Linked DNA regions of Homo sapiens: region 2 is linked to region 1. A link means that fine-mapping ties the variant in region 1 to the expression of a gene that starts in the linked region. Tissue or cell type: whole blood. Region 1 holds a variant in brackets; the other region holds the start of a gene. All regions are shown on one strand. Distances are from middle to middle.

Region 1 (4,240 bases):
GAGTTCCAGACTTGGTATTCACATTTTTCCATAATAAAAACAGATTAGAACCTAAGTAGGGAATCTGATATTCTCTAAAACTGAGCCTCACCTTGCATGAGCCCTCTCTTCTAAACAACTTTTCAAAACATCATTTCTCAAGCCCAGTTTTACTTTCCTGAATACATGCTGTTCCCCTTCCCTGGCAAGCTTTTCTCTCCTTCTAAGTTTGGGAAGCAAGATTTTTCCACTAAAACCCAGCAGAAGCTTTCCCTCCTTGAAATCTTTCAACTCCACTGTGGACTCTCACTTTCATGATCTAGGCTAGTATTTCTCTATCTAAGTGTGCTAGGCATCAGTGGGAATAGGAAAAGAAGAGTTTCTGCTGAAAATCTTTCTTAACCCCAAGTCCAGTTGTCACCTTTACTGGTAGAAGTATATTTGCCTGGTGGTACCATCCTGGCCCACAGCAGTGATTCCCAAATACTGATCCACTAAGTTGTGCCAAACTGTTTTCATCAGTATCACCTGGGAAGCTTTATATAATACAAAATGCCAGGTCATGCCTCCTCCAATTCCTCTCCCTTCTCAGAATTTATACCCCTGTTCTCCCATGCCCTACCCAGAAATTTAATTCAAGAGGTCTGGGGTAGAGCCTAAGAATTATTTTTTCAAAACCTCTCTGTATAATTCTGATGGCACAGTTGGCTGCAATAACCTTTGGTCTTGACACTATTTTGATCATGAGTCATGAAATGTATCACATTGTCCTTTGTACTGGTTTGACTTTATGACTTTTGTGTTTTGATTTGACTTTTCAAGTCCTTATGCGTTATTTTCCAATTAGATTTTAAGAGCCTTGCAAATAGGGATCTTATCCAACTCATCATTATTTTTCCTCCTTACTGTTCAAATATCTAGAATAGCATTTTGCACATACTGAATGTAAAAATATATATGTATATAGTTGTCGATTTGAAAATAAATTACCAAATATACTCACGATATTCTTGGTCTCATGTCTTTTTTTTTTTTTTTTTTTTTTTTTGGAGGTAGGGGGAGACGGAGTCCCACTCTTGTCGCCCAGGCTGGAGTGCAGTGGTGCGATCTCGGTTCACTGCAACCTCTGCCTTCCGGGTTCAAGCGATTCTCCTGCTTCAGCCTCCCGAGTAGCTGGGATGACAGGTGCCCACCGCAACACCCAGCTAATTTTTGTATTTTTAGTAGAGACGGGATTTCACCATGTTAGTCAGGCTGGTATTGAATGCCTGACCTCAGGTGATCCTCCCGCCTCGGCCTCCCGAAGTGCTGGGATTACAGGCATGAGTCACTGTGCCTGACCTTGGTCTCATGTCTTTAAAGTTGTCATTACCTTCTAAAGTTTGTAAAGGCTAAAGCTACAAAAAATTTCAAGTATTATACTATAAACACTGTGTATATAAAAATCCCAGTTTCACCTGGTTTCACATGGTTAATAACATTTGACTCAACTCTTAGTGCCTTCCCCAACATAAGCATGCTGTTCTTAACCACGGAAAAATTATAATAATTATGCAAGTGAAGATTTTGCATGTTTGTTTATTATGGCATCCACTCAGTAATCCACGTTCCCCTAGAGAATCTTGTGTAAGAAGTTTTAGTTCTAAAAAATTGCAGAAACAAGCCCCTCAGTGATCTAATTAGAAATGTTAGCAATCCTAGACCTCAAAGCAAAACAAACAAAATTCTTCCTCTTTTGCTAATCACAAAATAAAGGGAACTCTATTTTCTCTCTCTTCTACCACTTCCAACCAACACATGCCACTAGTTAATATCTGTTCCTCTAAGTGTACCCCATCCCCCACAAAAC[A/G]GGAAACTCAAGAAGTTTTTCACTTTTTCTCTGCGTTCCACATTAGTGTGTAATACGAATTAACATATCTTTAAATCTCCACCATCAGAGAGATTAGGTGATCTAATCTACCTGGACAGGGCATTTGTCATTAGTCTTTAATGACTTGACAGAATCTTAACAGATCCTAACAGAGGGAAAAGCTGCAGGCCCAAGTTGGTAGCTTCAAGTTTTGTTTTGTTTTCTTTCTGCTTTTTAGAGTCTGAAAAGTCTCTAATCTCCTAAAGATGTTGAAGATTTTTTTTTAGTGGCATCTAGAGTCCTCAGTTAAGCATAATCTTTCTTCTAACATAGGATTCACATGGTAATCTATTTTTATGCAATTATTTGATAGGCTATGAAATATATTTCCATCTTTACAGAATGTGACCATGGGAAGCAGATGCTGTCATGATAAGTAAAAGTAAATCAATGAGATAATACCACTCCTCCTATCCAGAGTGTGTGTCACACTGCACTTTCATTTTCTGTCAAGTTTTTGGGAGTTAAATATTTTGCTTATCATAACATCGTAAAGGGGAAGTTTGTATATCTAAGAGAACATTCTGTTTTATATAGTTGTGAGGAGCATTCCCACAAACACAGGGGTGGGAAATAGGCTGAACTTCTTTAATTTCCTATTTCAATGATATTTTTGATAACAGATTTATACATGGAATGGAGCCACTCAGTAATCTATGTGTCAAAGTTCACTGTGGACCTTATATTCATACCTGGAGCAAGGACTCCCAGTACCAACATAGCTTGGCATATGTCCTTTCTCATCTGTGGCACACCACTTAAGATAAATATTCCTTCTTATTTTTCCCATAATATAATGATAAAAGTGGTAGCCCTTGAGAGATTGAAGTAGGTATACCTCTTTACTTTGTGTTTTCTTGGTTTGCTTGTGATTCATCCTAAGCCAGAGGATAGCAGGCAATTCATTTAGTTTGCATCTATGTATAGTTTTCTCTTCCCTGAGACTTCACTGGTGTGTCTTCCTGTCTATGTGGCTATGGTTTTCCATGCATTGTGATATGGCTTTTACTTTCAACTGCTGTATTTAAATCACTGCTCCCTATAAATTCATTTATCACGCAAATGTGAATGGTACTAAGTTGCTGTCCTTTTTTTTTTTAAACAAACCTCAGGAGATGTTTATTTCCCCTGTTAGAAAAATCAGCTTCCAAACGTCAGTACCACATCTGTAAAATGGGTAGTGTCCCCATGGCATTATTATATGCTACTACTGGTTCTCACTGAAAGAAGATGTTTGTATGCTATGACACTAAAATAAAAGCTGAAAAAAAGTTCTAACATTTTATACGAATACAAATATATTCATTAGAAAACAACCTTTAACAGTATTTTATAGGTGAATGTAATGCACATTTAAAAATTCAATAAAATTTTTAGTATTGGTGTTTGTATAGCACTATGTAATGAGAAAGGCCATGAACCTGAGTTAAGAGTTGAGAATTTCCCCTCTAATATGATTATTAAGTCCAGCCAGTAAATCTGTTCCCTACTAGTCCAGCTCTCCCCAGGCACCAGTGATTATTTTTGGCAGCAGGCTGTTTCCTCCTTGAGTGCTTCCTATATAACTCCCCTCACCATGAGGACATGATCTGTGATAATTTTTTCATTCTGGGTAGATTAGATCATTCCATATTTTATGTTATCAGGAAATCAGTAACTTGGGAGTCAAGAAATTCTGAACCACAAAAGGCAAATGGATATGTGTCTCAGGATTCACCAGACTAGAGGCAAATGCAGACTTGAACCTTCTATTTCCTTTCATTATCCTATTTGAAGAGCCCTGGGGTTTTGTTAGAGTTTAATTTTACTCTTAATTTTTTTATTTTAAAAATAATGGCCCATTTTGAAGTTTATCAAACAATACAGAATTTTAGTTAATAAAAAGTTAAAGTTTCAAAAGCTATCTTTCTTAAGATAAACCCTAGTGTTCAAAATTGCTAACCTATTTCTTTTCTAGCTTTGTGGCAAATGAATTTTTCTGCATATAATATTAGACTGGAAATGTTAGTCTTGGTTAACAACTGAAGTACTTGGTGAAAATAGCATGAATTTACTTCTGATGATCCATATGCATTTTCCTGTTAAGACCTGCCTAGCTCTCTCCCTTAGTCCTCTCCTGATTTGTTTACTTATCACTCAGATGTCTGGACCAACATGGCAAACTTCTGATCTTTGCTGTACCAAACTTAAATAATAGCAAATCTGGACTGAGACTATTATTTTCCTACAGACAGTTTACATAGGGATAATTATTGAATTTTTAAAGACACCTTTTTTTTTTTCTTTTGAGGCAGGGGGTCTCACTCTGTTGCCCAGGCTGCAGTGTAGTGTCGCGATCACAGCTGACTGCAG
Region 2 (4,240 bases), 97 kb after region 1:
AGTTCCTGAGGGTTAGAATTTCAACGTATGAACTGGAAAAGAACACAACTGAGCCCATAACAACCGCCATCCCTGGTCGGAATGTGTCATTCAAGGATGGTCAACTTAATGAACTGTGTGGTCAGAAGCAATGACCACAGAATGACCATCAGGTCACCTGGAGATTTCCTACTCAAGGGAATGAGAGCAGGAACATATATCTTTGACACGGTGATGAATGAGTTTAGGTAAATGAGGTGGATGGAGGAATGTATTGACTTCTGAATTTTCCTGCAAGGCCACAGATGTACTGCCTCCTCCTCAGCACCAGGAATTCCTTGTTACTTGAACCACAGTGCCTGAGACCAAGTAAGTGTAGTTGAATGTCCTTGGGATAGTGTGGTAAGTCCTAGTTAACAAATCTGACATCAGGCACAAGGGTTAACAATCTATTTAGGGTCATAAAAGAAACACAAACTATCAGCCCTGCACCAAAGAACATAAGGCAGAGGTGATCAGGCTGGGAACAGAAAGTAGGAATCAGCAGAGTTCTGATTCCTGAAGAGGGTAACCTTCTTAAAGTCAGAAACTGATGAACAGGTATGGATGAGGAGGATGGTGATAAGCTGGAGCTAAGGCAGAAGCAGGAAAATGCAAGACATGACAATATCCCTAGGAGGCTGGCTGGTTACAGCAGAGGTATTGTGACCAAGAGGACTGGCTTACAGTGGTGCCAGAGAGAGAAAAGTCTGTGTCTAGGTGTGAAGTGATCTGGGACTGGATTAGTGACGGGGAGTATGGGGTGAGTGTGAGAAGATTGCTAAAAGCTGGCAATTGATGAAATGTTGAAATTAAGGAGGTCCAAAGTTAAACACACAACCCCAAAACCACCATAATGATGTAATCCTGTGACCCCCAAGAGGTTACTAGTTTTGGTACTGGTGCTGAGACCTCTGGAATGCAACACCTATGCTCATGAAAGAAAAGATGGGAACAGTCTCATTGCTTACGGATTCTTATACCCCAGAAAAGTTAATTCCAGTGTGTGGCATTTTATTTTCATCCTAACTTTAGGCTTCTCTAGTCAGCCCAATTGTTAGCAACAAGAAATTAGATAGATGGAAGCAATATTCTCCATTTGACAAGGTTTAGGGGCAAGACATTATTAACCTGGGAGGAGGAGTTAACCTAAGTAACAACAAACAGACTTCATAAAAGGGCTGTGATGCATTCTATACCTTTATCTTGGGGAAAATGCAGTAGGAAAGGGAAACAGCTAGCTTCACAGGAATTTGCTTGGCTTACTGGGATAGAACAAGAAAACCTGTCCTTTATATGCTAACTGAACATTAAGTCTTTTGAAAGCAAGAGGACGACTCCACTCCCAGTATCCTTTCCCACGGAAGGGTTTTCTGCAATTATCGTAAATGTCCTCTGAAAGCAATCCTAGATTACATAACTAATCCCATATATGTATGAGTATGTGTGTATCCTATACATATAAACTAGGATTATATATCTATGTAAAACATTTGTGTCTTGCACAGAACTTTGAAAATTTCCACTGTCTTCAAAGGATAACAGATCTTGAGTAGGTTGCTGAGGGCTTTCATCTTTTTCCTTAGCACTATAAATGCAAAATCGGCTATTCAGCCTATTGGGACCCTCCCTACACTGCCTTCAGTCAGTGCCTCAGAAGGGACACCATTCGCGACAGCGGACGTTAGCAGTGGGGTCTAGGTTCCATAAATCCCCAACTGATGTTGACACTCCGAGGAACCTCTGCCAAGTTGTAGCAAACTGGGTTCTCCACTTACAGGGTACGTTCCGGTCCTAAGGAAGACTCTCAAGAAGAGTCAGAAAATAGGTCTTTGGTAGGCACTGAAGTTTGGTAACTAGTCGCAGGCAGCTGGGACGAATTTTGCGGCTTCCTTCTCCCCGGTCTCCGGATATTCACACCTCTCGAACTGACCTCTCTGAAGGTGGGAAGGAGTACACAGAGCAGTAGTTCCAGCCCCGCGCGCCCCCTCTGCAGCGCCGCCCCCTCCGCCCCTCCCTCGCGGCAGCCCGAGTGCGCCCCACCTGCGCCGCCACGCCGCCGCGCCTCCCCGCCCCGCCTCGGGCCAGCCAGGCGCCGCACCCTCTCACCGCCGGGCCCCGCCCCGCACACGCGCCCCCGGCCGGTGCCCCGCCCCTCCCGTCACGTGACAGACCCACCCTCCGCACCCGTTCCGATTGGCTCTCCCGACCTAGGGGGAGGGATCTGGCGAACGGCGATGCCCCAGACGCGGCTGCAGTTTTCAAACCGCGACTGCAAGCTTCGGTAGTCCTCTCCGCTGCTGTCGCCAGGAGTCACTTCACGAGAAGCCAGGTCACAACCGTCGGCCCTTGTCTGGAAAAGTAAAAGTGGATCCTGCCACGTTCGGAGCTCCCTGGCGCCTCGCCCGGCTGGAGCTAGAGAACTCGTCCTGTGGCGGCCCCCGGCGTGGGGCGGGACAGCGGCCCCCTGGAGGGGGCAGTCCCGGGAGAACCTGCGGCGGCCGGAGCGGTTAGTGTCCTGCGGGATTGGCGGGTTGGCTCGGGGCTGCGATGGAACCAGCCGCCTCGGTACAGAGACCTCATACGTGAGGAAGGAGGACCCGAGGAGGGTTTAGGCGGTACGGTCCGGCTGAGAGGGGCTTGGACTCCGCCGCCCCTGAGGTGGCTGATTGCTGCTGGCGCCTCTCCGCTTTGCGGCTGGAGTCCGGGTTCCCTGGGGCTCCGCGCGGGGGGCGGCCGGCGGTCCTCCCACCACCCTCCTCAGCCCGGGGCGCGTGTCTGTGTCTGTGCGTGTCCGTGTGTCCCCGTGCGCCCTCCACCCGGCCGGCCCCGGCTCTCCCCAGGTCGCGCCAGGCAGGGCCCCCTTCGCGGCGGGCCCGCGCGGGTCCCTTCCACAGCAAGGCCACGCGGTCCCCCTAGCCTCTCCCGAGTCCCAGCTGCGGCGTGGGCGCGTTCCCATCGGGACTCGTGGACGCGTCCTGCTCCCAGCTGCCTTTCGTCTAGAGAAAGTTCGTGTTCATCTTGTGGGACGTTTTCAGTTACTGCTTGGGAACAGTGTTTTAAAACCAGCGAGAGATCAAGACGGGCTACAGCTGTTTCCGTGATTTTCAGCGATCTGATTTTTGCTTTGATGCCTTGTGACCCACTTAGTGTGCACGACTCATCCTCAAACTATACCACTACTGGATGCCAACGATTTTTGACATTTACCCAGGCTCTTTGTTTTATTGTAGGGAAAAGCGTTTCATTTGAATTTCCTCCGAGGGAGAAGTAGAGACAAAGTTGAAAGAGGCTTTATAGCAGCTGGTAGCTGGCATTAGTTTCTGTCTGGACTAGAGGCACTCTGACATCAATTTGGAAATTGGAATTAAGAAAATACGTTTTTAAAATCGTAATACTTATCAGATTTCACTAATATTTAAACACATGAGGACTGTGTATCACATTCACCGATTGTTTTGTCGACGTAATGTTTACATCTGTGGTGCTAATGATAAGCAGAACCTTGCCAGGGACGTTTGACGTGGTGTGGCCACTTTACGTTTTCAAGTCTATGAGAATGTCTGCGCGGAGACAGCATAGCTCTGTAGAAATGAGTGGCAGCGTATGTAACCTGGCATTTTGAACCCAGGAGCACAATTTTATTAAAGGAAAATAAACCTACTTTCTCATTGATAACACTGTTTTTTAGTTTTATGGTGAACTGTTCGGAAGTAATTTTCAACAAGTGCTTATTTTATAAATATTAGACCGTGTACCCCTAGGATTGTGTATTTTTTAAGAAAACTGGTCCATAGAAGCGGTGCAAAAGTTTTAAACTCATCTGCCTCGGATCCTCCTCCTCTGAGCAGATGCTCAATTAAACTTTTTCTAGTATCTTAATAATTGGAGGTATTAATAGATGTTTTATTTTTGAGATACATATTGTACATTTTAGATCTTTTTTTTTTTCTAAAGTAGGGATCCAAAATTGAGGTGAAATATATTTGCTTACATGGCAAGACTTTTTAAAAGTAGAATTTCTGTAATTGAAGACCATCCTTTTTTGTGTGTGAATAGAATGGTTGCGGTTTCTCTTGGGATCATTGATTAGTGAATTACGATTTGGTTAAGATAGAATGCGTTTTTAGGAAGTTGGAGGTTTGACTAATCGCTGTGTTAGCATATGAGTAACAAATTTGAAGAAGATACAAGCATTTTTATGGCTGACGTTTCTAATCAG

What was found. PIP is the estimated chance that this variant, and not a neighbour inherited with it, causes the effect.
Region 2: it holds the start of STK17B, and the variant in region 1 is fine-mapped to the expression of STK17B in whole blood (TOPMed, PIP 0.97).

Annotation. Positions count from the first base shown.
Region 1 is chr2:196,266,284-196,270,523 of GRCh38, reverse strand. The region is part of intron 17 of HECW2 (HECT, C2 and WW domain containing E3 ubiquitin protein ligase 2); the gene reads left to right. Among named protein-coding and RNA genes, the nearest start is that of HECW2-AS1, 8.4 kb to the right of the region's middle. The variant A/G (reference allele first, on the strand shown) is at 1,829.
Region 2 is chr2:196,169,620-196,173,859 of GRCh38, reverse strand. It overlaps STK17B (serine/threonine kinase 17b), which reads left to right and starts at 2,282. Exons shown (of 8, transcript NM_004226.4): 1 at 2,282-2,527. It overlaps LOC101927454 (a long non-coding RNA gene), which reads right to left and starts at 2,321. Exons shown (of 2, transcript XR_923737.2): 1 at 2,229-2,321; 2 at 1,012-1,955. RefSeq lists silencers at 1,987-2,216, 2,737-2,956.